6 separate regions of the Homo sapiens genome follow, and all the other regions are linked to region 6. Evidence: fine-mapped expression QTL. A gene starts in region 6. Each other region holds a variant in brackets. All regions are shown on one strand. Distances are from middle to middle. Region 1 overlaps ALOX5 (arachidonate 5-lipoxygenase). Region 2 has its middle 23 kb from the start of ALOX5. Region 3 overlaps ALOX5 (arachidonate 5-lipoxygenase). Region 4 has its middle 50 kb from the start of MARCHF8. Region 5 has its middle 20 kb from the start of MARCHF8. Region 6 holds the start of ALOX5 (arachidonate 5-lipoxygenase).

Evidence for each region. PIP is the estimated chance that this variant, and not a neighbour inherited with it, causes the effect. A credible set is the group of variants that fine-mapping cannot tell apart.
Region 1: its variant is the best candidate, but not a certain one, in a credible set for the expression of ALOX5 in whole blood (TOPMed, PIP 0.50).
Region 2: its variant is the best candidate, but not a certain one, in a credible set for the expression of ALOX5 in cerebral cortex (GTEx, PIP 0.50).
Region 3: its variant is the best candidate, but not a certain one, in a credible set for the expression of ALOX5 in whole blood (TOPMed, PIP 0.60).
Region 4: its variant is the best candidate, but not a certain one, in a credible set for the expression of ALOX5 in tibial nerve (GTEx, PIP 0.53).
Region 5: its variant is the best candidate, but not a certain one, in a credible set for the expression of ALOX5 in monocytes (TOPMed, PIP 0.52).

Annotation. Positions count from the first base shown.
Region 1 is chr10:45,394,052-45,398,051 of GRCh38, forward strand. ALOX5 (arachidonate 5-lipoxygenase) reads left to right here. Exons shown (of 14, transcript NM_000698.5): 3 at 1,804-1,885. Among named protein-coding and RNA genes, the nearest start is that of ALOX5, 22 kb to the left of the region's middle. The variant A/G (reference allele first, on the strand shown) is at 1,716.
Region 2 is chr10:45,349,175-45,353,174 of GRCh38, forward strand. No RefSeq gene overlaps it. Among named protein-coding and RNA genes, the nearest start is that of ALOX5, 23 kb to the right of the region's middle. The variant TA/T (reference allele first, on the strand shown) is at 1,577.
Region 3 is chr10:45,440,645-45,444,644 of GRCh38, forward strand. ALOX5 (arachidonate 5-lipoxygenase) reads left to right here. Exons shown (of 14, transcript NM_000698.5): 9 at 700-786; 10 at 2,394-2,572; 11 at 2,772-2,893; 12 at 3,084-3,184; 13 at 3,472-3,642. LOC102724323 (a long non-coding RNA gene) reads right to left here. Exons shown (of 3, transcript NR_120674.1): 3 at 3,924-4,000. Among named protein-coding and RNA genes, the nearest start is that of ALOX5, 68 kb to the left of the region's middle. RefSeq lists a silencer at 938-1,169 and enhancers at 1,526-2,296, 2,297-3,065. The variant G/T (reference allele first, on the strand shown) is at 2,209.
Region 4 is chr10:45,583,570-45,587,569 of GRCh38, forward strand. It overlaps a transcript of MARCHF8 not described here. Among named protein-coding and RNA genes, the nearest start is that of MARCHF8, 50 kb to the left of the region's middle. The variant G/A (reference allele first, on the strand shown) is at 2,344.
Region 5 is chr10:45,552,963-45,556,962 of GRCh38, forward strand. It overlaps a transcript of MARCHF8 not described here. Among named protein-coding and RNA genes, the nearest start is that of MARCHF8, 20 kb to the left of the region's middle. The variant G/T (reference allele first, on the strand shown) is at 2,243.
Region 6 is chr10:45,372,035-45,376,034 of GRCh38, forward strand. It overlaps ALOX5 (arachidonate 5-lipoxygenase), which reads left to right and starts at 2,182. Exons shown (of 14, transcript NM_000698.5): 1 at 2,182-2,395. The coding sequence starts at 2,246. RefSeq lists enhancers at 1,950-2,560, 2,561-3,169.

The DNA of each region.
Region 1 (4,000 bases), 22 kb after region 6:
GTCATCCCCATCAAACTACCAATGACTTTCTTCTCAGAATTGGAAAAATCTACGTTAAAGTTCATATGGAACCAAAAAAGAGCCCGCATTGCCAAGACAATCCTAAGCCAAAAGAACAAAGCTGGAGGCATCATGCTACCTGACTTCAAACTATACTACAAGGCTACAGTAACCAAAACAGCATGGTACTGGTACCAAAACAGAGATATAGACCAATGGAACAGAACAGAGCCCTCAGAAATGACACCACACATCTACAACCATCTGATCTTTGACAAACCTGACAAAAACAAGCAATGGGGAAAGGATTCCCTATTTAATAAATGGTGCTGGGAAAACTGGCTAGCCATAGGTAGACAGCTGAAGCTGGATCCCTTCCTTACACCTTATACAAAAATTAATTCAAGGTGGATTAAAGACTTAAATGTTAGACCTAAAACCATCAAAACCCTAGAGGAAAACCTAGGCAATACCATTCAGGACATAAGCATGGGCAAGGACTTCATGTCTAAAACACCAAAAGCAATGGCAACAAAAGCCAAAATGGACAAATGGGATCTAATTAAACTAAAGAGCTTCTGCACAGCAAAAGAAACTACCATCAGAGTGAACAGGCAACCTACAGAATGGGAAAAAAATTTTGCAATCTACTCATCTGACAAAGGGCTAATATCCAGAATCTACAAACAACTCAAACAAATTTACAAGAAAAAAACAAACAACCCCATCAAAAAGTGGGCGAAGGATATGAACAGACACTTCTCAAAAGAAGACGTTTATGCAGCCAACAGACACATGAAAAAATGCTCATCATCACTGGCCATCAGAGAAATGCAAATCAAAACCATAATGATATACCATCTCACACCAGTTACAATGGCAATCATTAAAAAGTCAGGAAACAACAGGTGCTGGAGAGGGTGTGGAGAAATGGGAACACTTTTATACTGTTGGTGGGACTGTAAACTAGTTCAACCTTTGTGGAAGACACTGTGGCAATTCCTCAGGGATCTAGAACTAGAAATACCATTTGACCCAGCCATCCCATTACTGGGTATATACCCAAAGGATTATAAATCATGCTGCTATAAAGACACATGCACACGTATGTTTATTGCAGCACTATTCACAATAGCAAAGACTTGGAACCAACCCAAATGTCCATCAATGATAGACTGAATTAAGAAAATGTGGCACATATACACCATGGAATACTATGCAGCCATAAAAAAGGATGAATTCATGTCCTTTGTAGGGACATGGATGAAGCTGGAAATCACCCTTCTCAGCAAACTATCGCAAGGACAAAAAAACAAACACTACATGTTCTCACTCATAGGTGGGAATTGAACAATGAGAACACTTGGACACAGGAAGGGGAACATCACACACCAAGGTCTGTCATGGGGTGGGGGTAAGGGGGAGGGATAGCATTAGGAGATATAACTAATGTAAATGACGAGTTAATGGGTGCAGCACACCAACATGACACATGTATACATATGTAACAAACCTGCACGTTGTGCACATGTATCCTAGAACTTAAAGTAGAATTAAAAAAAAAAAAAGAAAATTCACTAATTAGGTGTGTGACCTTGGGTAAAGTTCAAGAGCAAAGCTACACAACTTCCCTAAGCCTCAGTTTCTTCATCATTAATTGGGGAAGTGCTCTGAGGCTCAAATGAGGTCATGCACATAAAGCACTCGGCATGGGC[A/G]GGGCATCTGAGGGAAGCCTGAACACTTGGCATTGGGCATTGTTATTGTTCTTCCTCAGGCTCCTCTCATGTTGTTCTTTCTTTACAGCAAAGTTGGCCCGAGATGACCAAATTCACATTCTCAAGCAACACCGACGTAAAGAACTGGAAACACGGCAAAAACAATATCGGTGAGTTATGACATCAGATCGAGTGGCCACGGGGCCATGGTTTCTTCTATCTCAAGAGCATGGTATGAAATAAACCCTTTCCACAGTGTATGGCCTGTCACTGCTGGAAAGTCACCAAGGCACCAGCTCCCAGTGTGGGTGCACAATCCCCAAACTTCACCTTACCTACAACTCCAGACAAGAGATGGAGAGGAGAGTAATGAAAATAACTTTGGATCAACCATATTGGCATGTAGGAAGAATGGGCAGAAAAGCTTGAGTGTACCTTAATGTTCTCCATTGTAGGGGTTGCCTCTTACTTCTTATGTCTTCTTATAACAATTCAATTATAAAAGTGATACATGATCAGCAATAAAATTGACAACTCTTCAGCCAACTGACCAGAGGATTCAAACCATTAAAATGAGCAATAAGAGAAAATCAATACAGAAATTAAAATGAATAAAAAAGGAAAAATGAGACTCATAAAATGAGGGAAAATCAATACAGAAATTAAAATTAATAAAAAAGAATACTATGAACAATTGCATGCCAACAAACTAGTTAAATGAAATGCGCAAATTCCTAGAAAGACGCAAACTGCCAAAACTGACTCATGAAGAAATAGTTAATCTGAATAAAACAATCACAACCAAAGAGATTGAATTACTAATTCTAAAATTTCCCACAAATAGAAGCCCAGACCCAGATAGCTTCACTGGCTAATTCTATCAAACATTTAAAGAATTAATACTGATCTTGCATAAACTCTTTTAAGAAATAGAAGGAACACTTCCCAATTCATTGTCTCATACCCATATTATACCAAAACTAAAGGCATCACAAGAAAACTATAAACCAATATCCCTTAGCAATATAGATATAAACATTTTCAACGAAATACTAGCAAACCTAACCCAGAAGTATATAAAAGGCATTAAACAATATGAACATGTGGGATTTAGCCCAGGAATGCAAAGTTGGTTTAACATCCAAAAATCAATTAATTGAATTCACCATATCAATAGAGTAAATAACAAAACAAAACAAAGTACATAATCATTTCAATAGACATACAAAAAAGGCATTTGACAAAATCCAACACCCATTCATGATAAAACACTCAAAAAATAGGAATTGAAGAAAATGTCCTCAACCTGATAAAGGTTTGAAAATTCACAATTAGGCTGGGCGTGGTGGTTCACACCTGTAATCCCAGCACTTTGGGAGGCCAAGGCGGGTGGATCACGATGTCAAGAGATTGAGACCATCCTGGCCAACATGGTGAAACCCCGTCTATACTAAAATACAAAAAGTAGCTGTGTGTGGTGGCATGCGCCTGTAGTCCCAGCTACTCAGGAGGCTGAGGCAGGAGAATCACTTGAACCCAGAAGGCGGAGGTTGCAGTGAGCTGAGATCATGCCACTGCACTCCAGCATGGTGACAAGCAAGACTCCGTCCCCCCACATACACAAAAAAAGAAAATTCACAGTTAACATTATACTTAATGATGAAAGGCTGAATCCAGAAACAGGATAAAGATGTTCACTTTTGCTACTTCTATTCAACATTGTACTGGAGGGTCTAGCCAGCTCAGTTAGGGAATAAAAAGATAAGTAAAGGCACCCACAATGGAGTACAGTAAGTAAAACTACCACAATTTACAAATAACATGATCTTATATATAGAAAATCTGAAGGCATTCACCAAAAGAAATTATTAGAACTAATAAACCACCAAGATTGCAAGATACAAGATAATCAATTGTTTTTCTATACATTAACAACCAACTATGTGAAATAAAAGTAAGAAAAAGTTCAATTTACAATAGCATCAAAAACAGTAAACATTTATGAATAAATTTAACAAAGTAGTCTGAGACTTGTACAATGAAACTACAAAACATTGTTTAACATTATTAAAGAAGATCTAAATAGGTTGAAAGACATTTCATGTTCATGAATCAGAGGACTTAATTTTGTTAAAATGGCAATACCCCACAAATTAATGTACACGTTCAACACAACCCTTATCAAAATTCTAGCTGATTTCTTTGCAGAAATTGACAAGCTGTCAATTCTGCAAATTCATATGGAAATGGAAGGGACCCAGAATAGCCAAAACAATCTTGATAAA
Region 2 (4,000 bases), 23 kb before region 6:
AAGAATGATCAATAAATACTAAAAAAACAAATTAATTAATTAAATAAATTTCATATGGAACCAAAAAAGAGCCTGCATTGCCAAGTCAATCTTAAGCCAAAGGAACAAAGCTGGAGGCATCACACTACCTGACTTCAAACTATACTACAAGGCTACAGTAACCAAAACAGCACGGTACTGGTACCAAAACAGAGGTATAGACCAATGGAACAGAACAGAGCCTTCAGTAATAATGCCACATATGTACAACTATCTGATCTTTGACAAACCTGACAAAAACAAGAAATGGGGAAAGGATTCCCTATTTCATAAATGGTGTTGGGAAAACTGGCTAGCCAATAAATGGTGTAGGGAAAACTGGCTAGCCATATGTAGAAAGCTGAAACTGGATCCCTTCCTTACATCTTATACAAAAATTAATTCAAGATGGATTAAAGACTTACATGTTAGACCTAAAACCATAAAAACCCTAGAAGAAAACCTAGGCAATACCATTCAGGACATAGGCATGGGCAAGGACTTCATGCCTAAAACACCAAAAGCAATGGCAATGAAAGCCAAAATTGACAAATGGGATCTAATTAAACTAAAGAGCTTCTGCACAGCAAAAGAAACTACCATCAGAGTGAACAGGCAACCCACAGAATGGGAGAAAATTTTTGCAATCTACTCATCTGACAAAGGGCTAATATCCAGACTCTACAATGAACTCAAACAAATTTACAAGAAAAAAACAAACAACCCCATCAAAATGTGGGCCAAGGAAAAGAACAGACACTTCTCAAAAGAAGGCATTTATGCAGCCAAAAGACACATGAAAAAATGCTCATCATCACTGGCCATCAGAGAAATGCAAATCAAAACCACAATGAGATACCATCTCACACCAGTTAGAATGGTGATCGTTAAAAAGTCAGGAAACAACAGGTGCTGGAGAGGATATGGAGAAATAGGAATACTTTTACACTGTTGGTGGGACTGTAAACTAGTTCAACCATTGTGGAAGTCAGTGTGGCGATTCCTCAGGGATCTAGAACTAGAAATACCATTTGACCCAGCAATCCCATTACTGGGTATATACCCAAAGTATTATAAATCATGCTGCTATAAAGACACATGCACACATATGTTTATTGTGGCACTATTCACAAGAGCAAAGACTTGGAACCAACCCAAATGTCCAACAATGATAGACTGGATTAAGAAAATGTGGCACTTATACACCATGGAATACCAAGCAGCCATAAAAAATGATGAGTTCATGTCCTTTGTAGGGACATGGATGAAGCTAGAAACCATCATTCTCAGCAAACTATTGCAAGGACAAAAAACCAAACACTGCATGTTCTCACTCATAGGTGGGAATTGAACAATGAGAACACATGGACACAGGAAGGGGAACATCACACACTGGAGCCTGCTGTGGGGTGGGGGGTTGGGGGAGGGATAGCATTAGGAGATATACCTAATGCTAAATGACGAGTTAATGGGTGCAGCACACCAACATGGCACATGTATACATATGTAACTAACCTGCATGTTGTGCACATGTACCCTAAAACCTAAAGTATAATAA[TA/T]AAAAAATAAGCTTATAAAATGCTTTTAATGCTATATAACTTTATAACTCTGAAAGAATAATAGATTTGTATTATGCTGTCAGTGAGTAGGTCTATTAAGTGATAACATTAAACACAAATACCACCATTTATAAAGTATGATTTTGATATCATCGGTTGTGTATTTTCACCCCAAACTCTGTAGATAGTAACTTTGTTTTCTCATTTGACCATGCTCAATCTTTAGAGACCATGCTCTTCTCTCAAAATGACTGTAGGTTCATCCAAGTATGTTTGCTACCCAAAATCAATGAAACACAGTCACAACTATGTCTGTCTAGGAATAAAGCCAGCTAATTAGATTCTTATTCTAAGGAACAAGAAGAGGGCAGGTAAGAATTTGATTATGGCAGAATTCTGACCATAATCAATAACTGTTTTCTATTTTTTCTCCATGTTGTCGGGTGGTTCATACCTGACTTTCATCATTTCCAATGATTCCTGTTTGTTTTGTTTATAAATTTCAAAATCATCATGAAAAGTTTCACTGAATGAAAACCTGAAAATTGGGAAATAAACATTTTTCTGCAAAAAAAAAAAAACAATGAACACTGACTTCTCCTATTTCTCAAAGTCATCTCAAAGCCATATGAGGATTACCACAAACTTGCAGGTGAGAAAATTCTTTGCAATGTAAGAAGTGCCATGCAAATTAGTTGATGCTATTATAATTAGTCTCAGGGATCAAAAATGCTTGAACCCTAAATCTAACACTTCAAAGGAAAGCATTATTTTTCATTCATTTTACAAGTTACACCTCCCTTCTTCCCCACATCTTTGTTTAGAATCTGGACCCTGAAGTTAGAGGACCAAGATTCAAATCCCAGCCTCATCAGTACTAGCTATGTGATATTGGGAATGTTACTTGATCCCTGCTTATCTTACTTTCTGCATTTATTAAATGGGGATGAGAATAATATCTACCCAAATAAGGTGCCCAATGCAGTGCCCAACAGCATGAAGCCCAATAAAGGTTAGTTAACATCACATCCATAATTGACACCTTTAGGTATTAGATTTTCATCATCCCAGAACATTTTCCTTCTTTAAGCCTTTTTCTTTCTAAGTGGCACTTTCTTGGATACTGATTGCACTCCTCACAAACTTGAAACGTTCAAACACACAAGATGCCATTTAGGAGACATTGGAACTTGGGTTTCCTTCTCTGTAAAACTGAGTAATGACAGTCACCTCCCAGGGCTGTTGTAAGAATGAATGAGCTAGAGTATGTAAAATATCTTAGCACAGAGTGCTTAAGAAATTATTAGTTCCAGCCAAGCGTGGTGGCTCACGCCTGTAATCCCAGCACTTAGGGAGGCCAAGGCAGGCGGCTCATCTGGGGTCAGGAGTTCAAGACCACCTGGTCAACATGGTGAAACCCCGTCTCTACTAAAAATACAAAAATTAGCCAGGCGTGGTGGCATGTGCATGTAATCCCAGCTACTCAGGAGGCTGAGACAGGAGAATCACTTGAACCCAGGAGGTGGAGGTTGCAGTGAGCCGAGATCGTGCCATTGCACTCCAGCCTGGGCAACAAGAGTGAAACTCTGTCTCAAAAAAAAAAAAAAAAAAAAGAAGAAGAAGAAGAAAGAAGGAAAGAAAGAGAGAGAGAGAAAGAAAGAAAGAAAGAAAGAAAGAAAGAAAGAAAGAAAGAAAAAGAAAGAAAGAAAAGAAAGAAAGAAGGAAAGAGACAGAAAGAAAGAAGGGAAGAAAGAAAGAAAGAAAGAAAGAAAGAAAGAAAGAAAGAAAGAAAGAAAGAAAGAAGGGAAGAAAGAAAGAAAGAAAGAAAAAAAGAAAGAAAGAAAGAAAAAGAAAGAAAGAGAGAAAGAGAAAGAAAGAAAGAAAGAAAGGAGAGACAGAACGAAGGAAAGAAGGAAGGAATTATTTCCCTTTTTCCCACCCACGCCTCACCACAAACCTTGTTGTGGGGATAACATGTAAAAGTGAACAAAACTGAGAAGATCACATCGCATATCACTCAGCCTCTAGTGGGAGACACAGGCAATAAACAGGAAAAGTTAAAAACAGTACTAGGTAGTGGTGAGTGCAATTAGCCTCCCGCAGCATAAAGGGAGGAGAATAACCAGTGGCTCTTTCATGCAGAGAATCAGGGTAGACCTCTGGGGAGAGACCCGCACTCAGACTGGGATGGAATTATTTATTTTATGCGTGTTCAGTTAGGAGTAGAGGTGCTCTGTCGTGATTATCTAATCTTGGGAGGAACAATGTCAGACGGGTTTCAAGATGAGTATGAGAATTGGTCTTCCTTCTGAAAAAACAAGAATTGAGTTCACACTAATCACAAATACATCAAGCCTATTTGAGTCTTGTGTGTGTCATGGATTGAAGTGTATCTTTCCACTTAGTCAAGAAGTTCCAATGAG
Region 3 (4,000 bases), 69 kb after region 6:
TACCGCCCCACCTGCTATGGGAGGGCATCTGAGATGTGGAGTGGGAGGGATCACTGACATCCCACAGGGGGACCTGTGGCTGGGAGTGGGTGGCAGAAAGGGAGCCCTGGAGAGATGTTCTCAGAGTCAGTAATGCCCCTAAAGGAAGAAAACAGCTAGGAGCCTGCTGTTCCCCAGGACACGCGGCTGGGGCATGGGCCTGACACACGGGCCTCGCTGGCCAGCCAGTAGAGTTGGAAAAGGCAAATGAGTTCATGGTGATCCTCGGCTGATGCTGATGGCCGCCCCTGCCATCACTCTCCGTCCCTGTTCTCGAATCCTACAAGCATTGGCTGCTGGGGTGACTGCATGCTAAAAGTACCCATGTGCCTCAGTTTCCTCACCAGTAAAACAGGTCAAATAGTACAGCTGCCTTACAGAATGATGGTCAGATTAAGACAGTGAACTCAGGGAGCAAAGAGGTAAGCATTGTACAAGTGCTGGCCAGGACCCTCTGAATCATTATCATGCTTAGTAAGCATCAGAGGGGTGCAGGCCTCCAGCACTTATTCAGCAGAAAGATCAGCACCCAGCCTTCACTTCCTCCCTGCGCCCAGCATCATCCTATAGGGCAGGCCTGGGTGGGGGAGCTGCGGGTCCCTGAGGCACCAGGTCACCTGACTGGGCCCCCTCTGAGGCCTCCTCCTCTCCCCTCCCCAGCTGCTGGTGGCACACGTGAGATTCACCATTGCAATCAACACCAAGGCCCGTGAGCAGCTCATCTGCGAGTGTGGCCTCTTTGACAAGGTGGGTGCCCTCCTACCCTACTTGTTGCCTGGAAGAGCCCAGCCTGGCCGCCTTCACTCCCTATCTGAGATCTAGACACCCTTTCAGGAGGCCTGGAAGGGTGAAGGCTGGAGTCTGCTCAGAGCACTGGCTCCAGCATCCTCCTGATGTCTCCAGCCCGTGCCATTCAGCCAGGAGCACTCCTCCAGGCGCACCACCAGGTCTTCCTTCTCACTGATGGCTCCTGGTCCCCTCCTCCCACCCCTCCCCTCTCCCAGCCTCTGGGACCTGGGTGTAGACCCCCCTCTGGAACACACTCCTTATGGCCCCCTGACCTCCTACGCACCAGGAACCTGTGTCTGCCTCTTAATCTGCCACACCCCTGCCACCCTGACCTGGACCTCCCCAGCACTCTGCTTCCCGGGTCCCAACCCTCCCAACCCACTGTCTCCTGCATCGGGGACTCCAGGCCCTGCCCAGCCCTCGCATCCCTCAGGTAGCACCCCACCTCGTTTTGAGCCCTCTGTAGCCTTACCAAGCTTGGACTCTCACATGGGCCCTTGCCCCAACCTTCCTCCTTTCCCCAGCCCATTAGTGACCAGGCCAGATGACCACTGAAGTTGAGACACTGTTTGGGCTGCAAATGACAAAACCCAACTCAAACCAGCTGCAGCTGGACAAGACATGCCTTATCTCAAATACCTGGACACAATAGAGGGTCGGGGGCCTCAGCCAGAAATGGATCCAGGGACTCAAGCAATGCCCCAGGGTGCATGCACACTGGCTCCCTCTTTCTGTCTCTTTCACCTGTGTTGGCATCACACTCTCCTGCTGCAGACAGGCCCCCATGGGAGAGGGCACAGGAGCTCATCATAGTAGCTCCACCTCAGGTTCTCATGTGGCCATTATCTCCCAGCCGCATCTAAACAGAAAGTGCTGGGGGGCAGCTCTGGTTGGTCCTGCTTGGGCTGAATGCCCACCGTGGACCAATCTCTGGCACCCCAGCACCCAAGTCCTTCTTCAAAACCTCTGTGGCACCGACAGCCCAGCCCCCTGGGTGTATTTGCATGTGTGTGTGTGCACGTGGACACACATATGTGCCAGTGAGCTTGTGAGTGTGTCTGCATCACTCAGAAGCCGGGATCGGGATCAGGACCAGGATCCCTCCTTGTGGGTCTCTCCAGCCCTCACCTGAGCACACAACAGGCCCTCAACAGAGTTGCATGGGTCCTGGAAACTGAGGGTCACTGAGAGCAATGACTGAGGGTCGTGTGCTCAGCACTAGAGCAGACTTCACAGCCCAGGCCCGCTGGTGCTGGGGTCCCCCACACACCTGCCCACGCCTGCTGCCCTCCTGTGGCTGGGAGCGCACCCTTCCCTCTTGTACTCTGCAGCCCCACGGTTCAGTCCCTTGCATTGGATTGGGCGGGAGGCTCCTCCCTA[G/T]CACCTCTCCACCCGGCTGCCCTTGTCATTCTCTGCGTTAAACATCCCTCCCCCATCTCACAGGACAAGGGCTTGCACCTCTGCCTGCCTGGCCTCCTCGCCTCCCCTGGCACATTTCCTCAGGGATGGGTCTGGACAGCTGTGGGAGGAGCCACCCGCTCAGGGCACTCTACCTCCCACTCCAGGCCAACGCCACAGGGGGCGGTGGGCACGTGCAGATGGTGCAGAGGGCCATGAAGGACCTGACCTATGCCTCCCTGTGCTTTCCCGAGGCCATCAAGGCCCGGGGCATGGAGAGCAAAGAAGACATCCCCTACTACTTCTACCGGGACGACGGGCTCCTGGTGTGGGAAGCCATCAGGACGTGAGCGCCCGCGGGGCGGTGGTCCTGGGGGAGGAGCCGGGACCCCTGCCTGACTACCTGGGGCGGGCCTGGCCCCTCCACCGCTAGCGCTGAATGGGGACGGGGTGGGGGAGTCCCAGCGTCCGTGAGGGGGTTGCCGCCGGGCACCGCTCCGCAGACCTGGCTGGGTCGCCCACCCCGGCTGCGCCCCCTGAGCCAGGTTCACGGCCGAGGTGGTAGACATCTACTACGAGGGCGACCAGGTGGTGGAGGAGGACCCGGAGCTGCAGGACTTCGTGAACGATGTCTACGTGTACGGCATGCGGGGCCGCAAGTCCTCAGGTAGGGCCTCCGGGACGTCTCCGGACCCGGCTCCCCCGCAGTCGGCAGCGCTGGCCCCTCCGCCACCCCTCCGGGGTGTCCTGCCCAGGGTGCCCTCCGGCCTTGGGGCAGGGAATCCGGGCACGGGGTGGGCGCCGGGCCCTGGGGTCCTCAGGGACTGGGCCTCAGCCCGCCGGTGGTTCCACCCTAGGCTTCCCCAAGTCGGTCAAGAGCCGGGAGCAGCTGTCGGAGTACCTGACCGTGGTGATCTTCACCGCCTCCGCCCAGCACGCCGCGGTCAACTTCGGCCAGGTAGGCAGGGCCGGGCCCGCTGGGCAGGGCTCCCTTCTCAAGGCCGCTGCCTCCTCCCCCGCCCCGGTTCTGCACGCGTACTGCACCCTCGGACAGCCTCGGGGCCTGGCACGGGACTTGCAGGATGGATTCTGCCCGCTCAGCCAAGGGCGCTGGCCGCGGGGAAAGAGGATGGACGGACTGCAGGGCCCGCTGGAGTTGGGGGGCACGGGGAGGACGGGGCCCAGGGGGCAGCTGGGCAGCAGGGCTTCGGGGGTGCCCACGCTTGCTGGCGGTCGTCTCCGCAGTACGACTGGTGCTCCTGGATCCCCAATGCGCCCCCAACCATGCGAGCCCCGCCACCGACTGCCAAGGGCGTGGTGACCATTGAGCAGATCGTGGACACGCTGCCCGACCGCGGCCGCTCCTGCTGGCATCTGGGTGCAGTGTGGGCGCTGAGCCAGTTCCAGGAAAACGAGGTGAAGCTGGGCAGGGCGGGGCACAGCCCCAGGTCACCCCAGGTTAAGCGGTTCCTCAGCCTCAGGGCTTTGTGACTCGGGCCCCAAGGCTCACTTGGAGCAAAGGAATCCTGACTTCCAAGGCTGGAAGGGCCCAGAAGGCTGCAGCCGCCACCAGGTCCCCCGGCCTCAGCCTGGACAGAGCTCAGGGTGTGCAGGGCAGGAGAGCACACAGCCCAGGCTTTGCTCACTGTCACCAGAGGGTCGTGTGTGACGCCCCCTCCCCCCAGCTATTGACAAAGTTCTTGCACATGTGTTTTACCCTGGTACTCCAGAGGGAATGACCAAGAGTTTCCTGGGTTCCTTCCGGACACGTGCA
Region 4 (4,000 bases), 210 kb after region 6:
ATAGTAAATAAAACTCAACCTGCAAAGGAATACTACATCATTATTAAAAGAATGCGGATCTGTATGTATTGATCTAGGTGAAAAAGCATATTTCAAAATATAGTATGTAGTATGATGCTACTTTTATTAAAATACCCAGTATAACTAGATGAGACTTTTTCTTTATGTACTTACAGTATTTGACTTTTTTAGCATTGTGACATTACCTGTGTAGCTCTTTTAAAGACAATAAAGACATATGCTTGTCAGATTGGATAAAAGCAGTAACAAAAGAAAGCAAAAAAGAATGGAGGGAAGGTGATGGCACGCGCCTGCAATCCCAGCTACTCCGGAGGCTGAGGCAGAGAATTGCTTAAACCTGGAGGGGCGGAGGTTGCAGTGAGCCAAGATCGTGCCACTGCACTCCAGCCTGGGTGACAGAGCGAGACTTCATTTCCAAAAAAAAAAAAAAAAAAAAAGGAGGAAAGGAAAGAATCTACTTTTTGTAAGTCTATATAGTAAAACAGGGAAGATGCACATGATTTCCACTTCTAGATTCTACCAACATATATACAATCATATATATATATATATATATATATATATATATATATATATATCAAGAAATTCTCTCACACATTCACAAGAACTAAGAAACAATCTAAATTTTCATCAATGAAAGAATGAACAAATTGTGATCTATTCATACAATAAAACACCATACAGTAGTTATTAAAACTCAAACCACAAAAGCACAAATCTGAGGGAAAATCTCACATGTTAGAGAATACATACAGAATAAAATTATTTATGTAAAACTTTTTAAAAAGCAACAAAATAAAACTATCTTTACTTATGGATAAATATGGACCCACAGATTATGGACCCACAGATTAAAAACACCATGAGATACCACTTCTCAGCCTAAATATCTGACAATATTAAGTGACAATATTAAGGACATGGAACAAGAACTCCAATGTCTGCTAAGGTAAATGCATACTGGTACCACCACTATGGAAAACAACATTATATACAGTGGTAGTCAGAAATCTAAAGATAGTCCTCCAAGATTCCTGCCCCTGGTTATTCAAACACTAATTTGAGTATAGCTGTGAAAGGACCACGGAGATAAAATAGAGTAATCTAGATTATCCCAGTGGACCCAATCAAATCATATGAGCCCTTAAAAGCAGAGAATGGTCTCCATCTAGAGAAGGAAAAAAATATGAGTCAGAGAGATTCAAAGCATGAGAGAGATTCAACCTCCTATTGCCGGCTTTGAAGATGAAGAAAGAAAGAGGATCACAAGGCAAGAAATGTATGGCCTGTAGAAGCTGAGAACGACCATCAGCTAACATCCAGCAAGGACACATGGACCTCAGTCCTACAACCATATGAACTGAATTCTACCAACAACCCAAATAAGTGTGGGAGTTGATTTATCTCCAGAGCCTCCAGAAAAGAATGCAGTCCTACTGACAACTTGATTTCAGCCTCCTAAGACCCAGAGCAGATAACCCAGCCAAGCCTACTGCATTTCTGACCTATAGGACCATGAGATTTTAAAATGTGTGTTGTTTTAAGCCTCTAAGTTTGTGGTAATTAGTTACACAGCAACAGAAAACTACTACTTCTAGAAAAGTTGAAGAAATGCATTATCCTACAACCCAGCAGCTATACACCTGACCATACACAAAGAGAAACTCTTGCCCAAGAGCATAAAAAGACATGCACAATGTTCACATCACCACTGCTCATGATAGAAAAAAAATGGACAATCCAGTCATTCATCAGTACTACAAAGGACAAATTGTGGAATATTCATAATGTAACACAATAAGACAAGGAGACACCAATGAACTACGGCCATACAAAAATATGAATGAGTCTCAAATCTCATACGGAATAAAAAAGCAAATGAAAGAAGTTTACCCACAATACAATTCTAGTCATAAAGTTCAACAGCATGCAGGGCAAAACAACACAGCTTAGAGATACAAATGTGGTAAAACTATAGCAATGAAATAATAAAAACAAAATTCAGGGTAGCAGTTATGTCTCTGGGAACATAACAGAATGGGATCAGAGAAGAGAGATGAAGGGCATCAAAAGTAATGTAGATTGTTCCTAACTGGTGATTACAGAATAACAGCACTTACATTCTATACATAATTTATAAATATTGTAATATCTATTCAATATTTGAAAAATGAAAACATCTAGATAATCAAACTTCTACATAACAAAAAAAACTTCTTTTCTTTGGCAAAGATGTGTTCATTGAAAGGAATAATTCAAATGATATAAAGAGTCCAATCATTTTTTTAATCACCTAAAATTCTCACCACCTGGACATAATTA[G/A]TAACAATTTGCTTAACATCCTTCTAGACATTTCCTATGAGTATACATACATTTAAATATTTTACATAAAATCTCAGTATATATACACATAGGTATATGTTCAGTCTGTAAATGCTTTTTAGACCCTTTTTAAAAACAACTCTATTAAGACATAATTTACATAAAATAAAATGCACCCATCTTAAGCATAATGTGAAGTTCTGACAAAAGTGTATAAAAAGTGTATACGTAGTATAACCACCACCCAATCAAAATACAGAGTAATTCCATCACCACAGAAAGTTCTCTTTTGCTCCTCTGCAGTCATTCCCCACCCCTACCTATAACCTCAGGCAACCACTAATCTGCTCTCTTAATGTTTTGGTGGTTCTAGAATTACACATCAATCAAATCATACAGAATGTAGTGTTTTGTCTGGCTTCTTTTGCTCAGCATAATGTTTTTAATTTCATATAGTGACACTGTGCAATTCACTCCTTTTTTCTCCTAATATCCCATTGCAGACTTGTTGAAAGATTATACTCTTTCCGGTGTTAAGCACTGAGTACAAGTCATTTGTGAATTTAAGGTTTTATTTTACACCCAGGGGTGTAAATGTCTAGGTCATACAGTAAGTGCATGTTTAAGTTAATAGGAAACTGTCAAACAGTTTTCCAAAGTGCCTGTACATTCCTATCAGCAATTTATGTAAAATTCTGATTGCTCTACATCCTCACCAACACTTGGTATTGTTAGTCTTTTTCATTTTGACCCTTCTTGTAGGCAAAAAGTTGCTCATAATTTCCTTTAATAAATATATTGGGAATTTTTAGTATGTCTACTAGAATTTCAAATACCTTATTTTGTGAAGTTGCTCCACAAATTTTTTTTTTACCGATTTTGCAATTTGAGTTCTCTAGCTTCTTCTTAATTTACTGAAGTTCTTTATATATGCTGGATAAAAGTCCTCTGTCAGATACATAAATTGCCAACATTTGCTCCCAGTCTATAGTATACTGTTTCTTTTCCTTAACATCTCCTAAAGTGCATACGTTTTAATTTTATTAAGTCCAATTTAACATTTTTAAAATGTTGTAGTTAGTGCTTTTTGTACCACATATAAGACTAAATGCTTTCTCCCTCAAATTGACAACAGGACATGGACATCTGCTCTCACCACTTCTATCATAATATTGGACTTGAGGTCCTCATCAGTGTCATAAGGCAAGAAAAAGAAATAGAAAGCACATGAGTGGAAAGGAAGACGTAAAACTGTCTTTATTCAATGACTGTATGTGGAGAAAATCCAACCAAAAGACTACCAGAACTAGTAAGTGGATTCAGAAAGGCTACAAGACACAAAGACAATATACAAAAATCAGCTGTATTTTTACACATTAGCAAGGAATACTTGAGAAATGATTTTTTAATCCTATTTACAATGACATTAAAAATGTAAGATATTAAGATATAAATTCAACAAAATATGCATAGGACCTGTACACTGCAAAACTAAAAAACATGTTGCAAGAAATTAAAGAACTAAATAAATGGAGAGCTATACCATGTTCATGTATTGAAAGGTTCGATGACATTAAAATAGCAATTCTCCACAAACTGATCTATAGAACCAAGACAATCCCAATTGAAACCACAAGTTGTTTTCTTTTTTAAAAAA
Region 5 (4,000 bases), 180 kb after region 6:
ACCTATGTTGAATACTTTGGAAAGCATCCATACAGGCATATTACTTTCCTTAAAATTTTTTGACAAATTGAGTATATATAAAACAACTATAAAAGACTAGAAAACAACACTAAAATACCAGAATCCTGGCTAGGTGCAATGGCTCATACCTGTAATCCCAGTACTTTGGGAAGCTGAGGCAGAAGGATCACTTGAGGCCAGGAGTTTGAGACCAGTCTGGGCAACACAGCAAGACCCCATCTCTACAAAAAAAATTTACATTTAAAAAAAAAGATAGAATTCTATGCTCTGACTGCTTCAGATGTTCCTAAAGTCTCAATCTACTTTAAACAGAGTGAAACTAGAAAACACAGAAGCTACTCTATAAATGTGGTTTTTACAAGAACAATAATACAGAACTGAGAGGACCCATAATACTCAAAGAAAGATTACTACCCTAGATCACAAGACTGGCCTTTTGCATCCTCCACTATTCCCAGAACAATCCATCAGTAGCAGTAACATTACGCTTGAATACTTCCTGAAGTCAAGTTGTTTTATTTAAAACTGAAATATCCCTCTAAAAGACAACAACAACAACAAAAAATAAGTATGTATATACAAGGTATTCACTGCAGCACTATTTCTAACAGCAAGACACTAAAGACAATCCAAATGTCCATTAATATGGGACTGACAATAAACTGGTAAATTCACACAATGAAATAGACAAAAAGGCATGACAAATGTCTCTATATACTTCTATGGAGTGATCAGCAGGAAAAATAGGAAGACAAAAAAGCAAGAAGAAAATTATACATAGTGTGCTACCATTCACCTAAGACGGGATTAGGAGGCAGAAACTATACGTGTGTGCACATGCATGGACATGCACACACACACACACACACTCTTGCTCATGTTTTAAATGGAATGCAGGAAAAAAAATAGAGGGAACCACAATCAGAGATGGATTTCTCTGATTCTGCCTTGTTTTACACATTTAGCTCTGGAACCATGTATATGTTTTCCATAATTGTTTAAAAAATAATTGAAAAACTGTCATCTCTAAAATTCAAAAGCAAAATGAAATGACCCTAAATATTTGTTGAATTGGTGGTATAATCATGCAAAAAGGAATTATTTCAAATGATTTAAAACAGTTTTACCAGACATCCCTATAGGAATCTATCCTAAAAATGAAAAGAATTTGGGAAAGTGCTTTTAATTCTTAAACTATTTTCAGTAATCATATTGTTAGCAGTAACACTGACAAGTAATGGTATCAATATGATTATGATCAAGAACCAAAATTTTTAGCATGAGACAAAGATAAAATTAAAGAAATTCAACAAAATCATCTGTTCCTAAGTTTATAATGGAAAAATCAGTATGAAACTCATAAAATATTTTACCTTAAAAATAACGTATTTCCTAGCCCCATTCACTGAAAAGGCCTAGAAGTAACAACCAATCTGTAGTTTCCAGACTGTGGTCACTAAATACAATTTCCCTCTGAAAGGAACCAGGGCTGGTTAAAGAAAGGGATAATTCCAGATCTATGGCTGTTAATGTACAAGATGAGCCTGGACATCTTGTCACACAAGAAAGCAAGAAGCCATCAGAAGCACCCATGCCAAAATGACCCAGGAGCTAATGTGAAGGCACTCCCATTGGCCAAAGAAGAGACAATGTGGACCAGGTGCAGTGGCTCATGCCTGTAATCTTAGCTCTTTGGGAGACTGAGGCAGGGGGATCACCGGAGGTCGGGAATTCGAGACCAGCCTGACCAAAATGGAGAATCCCATCTCTAGTAAAAATATAAAATTAGGGCCGGGCGTGGTTGCCCACACCTGTAATCCCAGTACTTTGGAAGGCCAAGACTAGCGGATTGCCTGAGGTCAAGCGTTCAAGACCAGCCTGGCCGATGTGATAAAACCCCGTCTCTACTAAAAATACAAAAATTAGCCAGGCGTAGTGGTGCGCACCTGTTGTCCCAGCTACTTGGGAGGCTGAGGCAGAAGAATTGCTTGAACCCGGAGGCAGAGGCTGAAGTGAGCTGAGATTGCGCCACTGCATTCCAGCCTGGGCGACAGAGTGAGACTCTGTCTCCAAAAATAAAAATAAGAAATAAAACATTAGCCGGGCGTAGTGGTGCATGCCTGTAATCACAGCTACTCAGGAGGCCAAGGGAAGAGAATCGCTTGAACCTAGAAGGTAGAGGTTGCAGTGAGCTGAGATCATGCCATTGCACTCCAGCCTG[G/T]GCAACAAAAGCAACACTCTTGTCTCAAGAAAAAAAGAAGGGACAATTTGATCATTAATAAGAATAACTGTGGCTGGGTAAACTGGTTTGTGCCTTATAGTCCCAGCTACCTGGGAGGGTAAGGAGAGAGGATCACTTGAGACCAGCCTGGGCAACATAGTGAGATCTATCATTAATTAATGTAATTAACTCATTAAAGAATAACTGCAATGAACTTAAGAAATCATCAAACATATTAAATTCACATGCTGGCTGGGCGTGATGGCTCACACCTGTAATCTCAGTACTTTGTGAGGCCGAGGTAGGAAAATCTCTTGAGGGCCAAGAGTTCAAGACCAGCCTGGGCAACACAGTGAGATCCCATCTCTCCAAAAACGATTTCTTTTTTAATTAGCTGTGTTTGGTGGTGCATGCCTGTGGTCCCAGCTACTTGGGAGGCTGAGGCAGGAGGATCGCTTGAGCCCAGGAGGTTGAGGCTGCAATGAGCCATGATTACACCACTGCACTCCAGCCTGAGCGACATTGTAAGACCCTGTCTCAAAAAAAAAAAAAAAGAAAAAGAAAAAGAAAAGAGTATGTGTTTATAATGATACTTTTTAAATAAAGGAAAAAGCACTGGCCATTTTTGGAAATGCTAGGGACCCTCCAAGAGTTGTAAGTAAAGAGAAAGAGTCACTCATTTAACCTGACTTCCCTGTATAAGCTATACCTCTGGGTAACTGAACAGTCTGTAAAAAGAGTCTTCTCTGTACTAGTATTCCAGCGAATAAATGAAAAAGGAATGATGAAATTAGAATTGCAACATCTTGCATGCCCATGATTAAGTAATGGATCTATGTGAAGAATAAGTGGTCACTACTGTTTCAAAGCAAAAAAATCATTTCGCAAAATTCATATATAATAGTATGAGCAAGTGCACAAGATAAACGGCATGATTTTTTCAGTAAATAACATTTCAATAAGACAGAAAATAAGGAAAACCTATAGCTTAAAAGATATTGAAGAAAACCTATCAACCGAATGTAATGTGTAGACCTTGTTTACATCCTGATGCAAACAAATCACAGTACACACAAACACACACACAAAACTGTGAAATAACTTTGGGATGATAGTGGTATTGTGTGATTCATTCTAAGAAAAACAGCCCTTATCTTTCAGTGAAAGTACTAAAATATTTACAGATAAAATGAAAAGAACAAGAATGTACCCCCAAAAATGGACTGGGAGAGGGATATAAAGAAACAAAAGACGCTATGAGTGGATGCCAGCTAGAGCCAGGCACAAGGCGGTTCACGGTATTCTTCCTTTACTTCTGTGTATGTTTTAAATTCTCCATAATAAAAGTTTTGAAACTTTGATGTATGACTGTATGTCTGTATGCTTTAATAATAAAATGTTAATGGCATATAAAATTTTTCAGGATTTCCTGCTTTATGTTAAAACGGCTTCTCCGGTTCTTTCCACAAAAGAGGCATCTGGGGGTCAAGTCCCTTATTTCTCTGAATTATCAACTTAAAGCATAGGGCCTGCTACCCAGGAAGTGCTCAATAAATGTTAAATGAACGAATTCTGTTTGCTATACTTCTCTGCTCTGCTAAACCTTCCAAAACCCTAATCTAGTGATCCAACTTGTAGTAAAGGATGAGTAAATAGAATCAAGTATTAAAAAGACAAAAAATCCAAAACCCTGTATGTACTTAACCTTTTAAGTCTATGTTCCATAAAAAAATGGTTGTTTTTTTCTTGTGGTAAAAA
Region 6 (4,000 bases):
ACTAGCAATTAACAATCTCAAAATGAATTAAAATTCCATTTACAATAGTATCAAACATAAATTATTTAGAAATAAAAAGTGCACTGAAAACTACAAAATATTTTGAAATAAATCAGAAAAGATTTAAGTAAATGGATCACTTGAACCTGGGAAGCAGAGGTTGCAGTGTGCCGAGATTGTACCACTGCACTTTAGCCTGGGCAACAGAGGGAGACTCCAAAGAGTCGAAAAGAAAAGAAAAGATTTAAATAAGCTGAAACATATTCTATGGATCAGAAGACTTAATATTGTTAAAGTGACAATATTCCCCAAATTGATCTACAGCTTCAACTCAACCCCTATCAAAATCCTAGCTTGCTTTTTGGCTGAAATTGACAAGCTGATTCTATAATTTATATGGAATCTCAAAGGATCCAGAATAACCAAAACAATATTGAAAAATAAAGAACAGCGTTGGTGGATTAACATTTTCCAATTTCAAAACTTACTATAGCACTGCGGTAATCAAGCAGTGTGGCACTGTATAGCATGTACATTACAGATCAGTGGACTAGAATCAATGTCCAGAAATAAACCGTTATGTTTATAATGAATTACTTTTTAATAAGGTGTCAAGACAACGCAATGGGAAAAGAATAATGAATTCAACAAATGATGCATGGACAACCGGACATGCACATGCAACACAATGAATTTGAATTCTTCTATCGCTCCATGCATAAAAACTAACTCAAAATGGGTCACGGATGTAAATGAAAAGCTAAAACTATAATAATCCTAGAGGAAAACCTAGGAGTAAATCTTTAAGATGTTATTGTAGGCAGTGGTTTCTCAGATAGGACCCCAAAATCACAAGCGACAAAAGAAATTGGACTTAAAGTTAAATACTTTTGTGCTTCAAACATCATCAAGAAAGTGAAAACACAACCCGCAGAAGCAATAAAAATGTCTGTAAGTCATGTATCCGATTAGAGACTTCTATCCAGGATATATAAATAATGCAATTCAATGATAAAAAAGATAAATAGCCCAGTTTTCCAAAGAGTCAAGCATCTGAATATACATCTCTCCAAAAATATACAGATATCCAACAAGCATGTGAAAAGATGTTCAAAGCCATTTGCCAGGTGCACAAACCCAAGACAGTATGAGGAGATGCTACAGGGACTCTGCTGCTTCACAGACATGAAGCGTTGGTGAGAATGTAGGCAGCCGCCTTTGGGGACTTCACATCCCCGCCGCCCCACGCACGGTGAGCTAGTGTTTAAACTTAGCCGAGATCAATACACGCGACTGTGTGCCCGTCAGACCCTGCGCTGCCGGCGGGGCTGGGAGAGGCGGGCGCCAGGAGTGGGCGGGAACCTGGGGGTCAGGCCCCAGCCGCGGGAAGCCGCCCAGGAGCGCGCGAAACCTTCTCCACACCCTTCCAGGCATTTGCCCGCCGCGATTCAGAGAGCCGACCCGTGACCCCTGGCCTCCCCTAGACAGCCCCGCATGTCCAGATGTGCCGTCCCGCCTGCCTCCCGCGACCACTGGCCATCTCTGGGCCTGGGCGCGGTCTCGGCGCCCGCCTGCCCCCGCCAGGAGCCGCAGGTCCAGCCAGTGAAGAAGCCCGCGCTGAAGGAGCCTCTGTGCTCCAGAATCCATCCTCAGTATCAGCGCTGGGGTGGCCTCCTCCAGGAAGCCCTTCTGATTCTCTCATGGGTCGCTCTTCCTCTGCAGACTCCCGGAGCACCCCTGCTCCAAGTACCGCAAGTGGCACTGAGAACTTGGGGAGAGCAGAGGCTGTGCCTAGATTTGTAGGGAGTCCCCGCAGCTCCACCCCAGGGCCTACAGGAGCCTGGCCTTGGGCGAAGCCGAGGCAGGCAGGCAGGGCAAAGGGTGGAAGCAATTCAGGAGAGAACGAGTGAACGAATGGATGAGGGGTGGCAGCCGAGGTTGCCCCAGTCCCCTGGCTGCAGGAACAGACACCTCGCTGAGGAGAGACCCAGGAGCGAGGCCCCTGCCCCGCCCGAGGCGAGGTCCCGCCCAGTCGGCGCCGCGTGAAGAGTGGGAGAGAAGTACTGCGGGGGCGGGGGCGGGGGCGGGGGCGGGGGCGGGGGCAGCCGGGAGCCTGGAGCCAGACCGGGGCGGGGCCGGGACCGGGGCCAGGGACCAGTGGTGGGAGGAGGCTGCGGCGCTAGATGCGGACACCTGGACCGCCGCGCCGAGGCTCCCGGCGCTCGCTGCTCCCGCGGCCCGCGCCATGCCCTCCTACACGGTCACCGTGGCCACTGGCAGCCAGTGGTTCGCCGGCACTGACGACTACATCTACCTCAGCCTCGTGGGCTCGGCGGGCTGCAGCGAGAAGCACCTGCTGGACAAGCCCTTCTACAACGACTTCGAGCGTGGCGCGGTGAGCGCGGGCGGGGCACGGGTGGAGCGCGGGCTGAGGTGCGTCCGGGACCCGGTTTGGACGGCAGAGGCCTGGGCGGGGGCGCCGAGGGCCCGTCGGGGCGGCCCGGACAGGACTGGGGGTGTCCAGGACCCTGTCAGGGAGGGCAGAACTGCGGTGGGGCGTGCCCTGGGCTCCCAGTGGCCGGTGGGTACCCTGGTGGGCAAGCGTCCAGGACCCCTCGCGGCGGCCGCGACCCCTGTCGGAAACGGAGACTTCCCGCGTGCCGCCTGCAAGGCGTCTTCCCTGGGAGGAGAAGGCCCAAGGTTTCCCCTCCACTTCAAGATCTGGGCTCCGAGGCTCCGGAGCCCCCTTCACTGGGCCGCGTTTCTTGTGCCACCTCTTCCTTAGGCTCCTTCTGCAGGTCGCACAGGGAGGGAGAGGCAGATGAGTCATGCTCACAGAACTCTGAGGGCACCTCGGAGCAGCCAGCTGTGAGCCGTGGGGAAGGGTGCACGTCAGCGGGTCCAGAGGCCTGAGTTCTGTCCAGACATGACCACCAGCTCACTCTACCGTCTGTCTGGGCCTCAGTTTCCCCAGCTGAAAATGGAGGGTTGGCTTCAGTCTGGTCCATGAGTCATGGGTGAGCCCAGGCCCATCTGGTGGCTCAGACGGCACCTGGGCAGCTTACATTCTCAGGACAGTCCCCAGAGGAAATTAAAGGGAAGGAACAGAACCCAGGCCAGGAGAGGCTTTTCCTAAATGGAGGGGCTGCACTCCCTCCCAGCAGAATGTACACCAGGGAACACTTCCACGCTAGGTGTGAGGACGCGAGGGAGCCCTCAGCATTTGGAAGCTAGTTCCTAATGCTGATCTGGACCTGAATTCCAGCCCCACGACTCTTTTCCATGAGCATGGGCAGGTCGCAGTTCTCACTGAGCCTTTAATGAAGTGCCTAATCCAGTACCTGGCACAGAGGAAGCGCTCCGTAAATGACTGGTAATAGTCCCAGACATACTGCAGGTGCGCAGGGAATATCAGTTCCCTTCCACCCCACCCCAGCTCCTAACTGGACCAAAAAGATTTAGACTTTACCAAGCTGCCTTCTCACCATTTAGTTTATTATTTGATCAAACCTTGTGAAATTGCTCATAATGGACAAATACAACCGGCAAGTTCATGTTTCAACTGATTACTCTTGGATAAAATTTGTGTTTTAGGTGTGCAGAGCCTAAAGTAAGTAAAAACTACTCTTTTTCTGGATTCCAAGCTCTCCATGGGCTCGATTCCTATCCAGGAGCCCATACCCTCGCTGTAGCACGACATGGCCCTCAGCCAAGTTCACTAGCATCCTGGCTTGAGCTCCCTTCAAGAAGAGTTAGGTGTTGAGTACAAGAGCAACCTTCAGTTGCTTAGTTGCCCCAGTCGGGGAACTGACCCTGAGGACTGCGGTGCCCTGGAGTTAATGTGTCGTCCATTTAGGGTGATGGCACCCTCTGCCATTTCTGACGCACCTTCATTTACTTCCATTATTTCATGGATTCCCCACACCTGGGGGAGAAGGACAGGGTACAGGCTACTTCCCCTTTGTAAGTGCTTCCTCCTCCCCATTCTCCTCCACACATC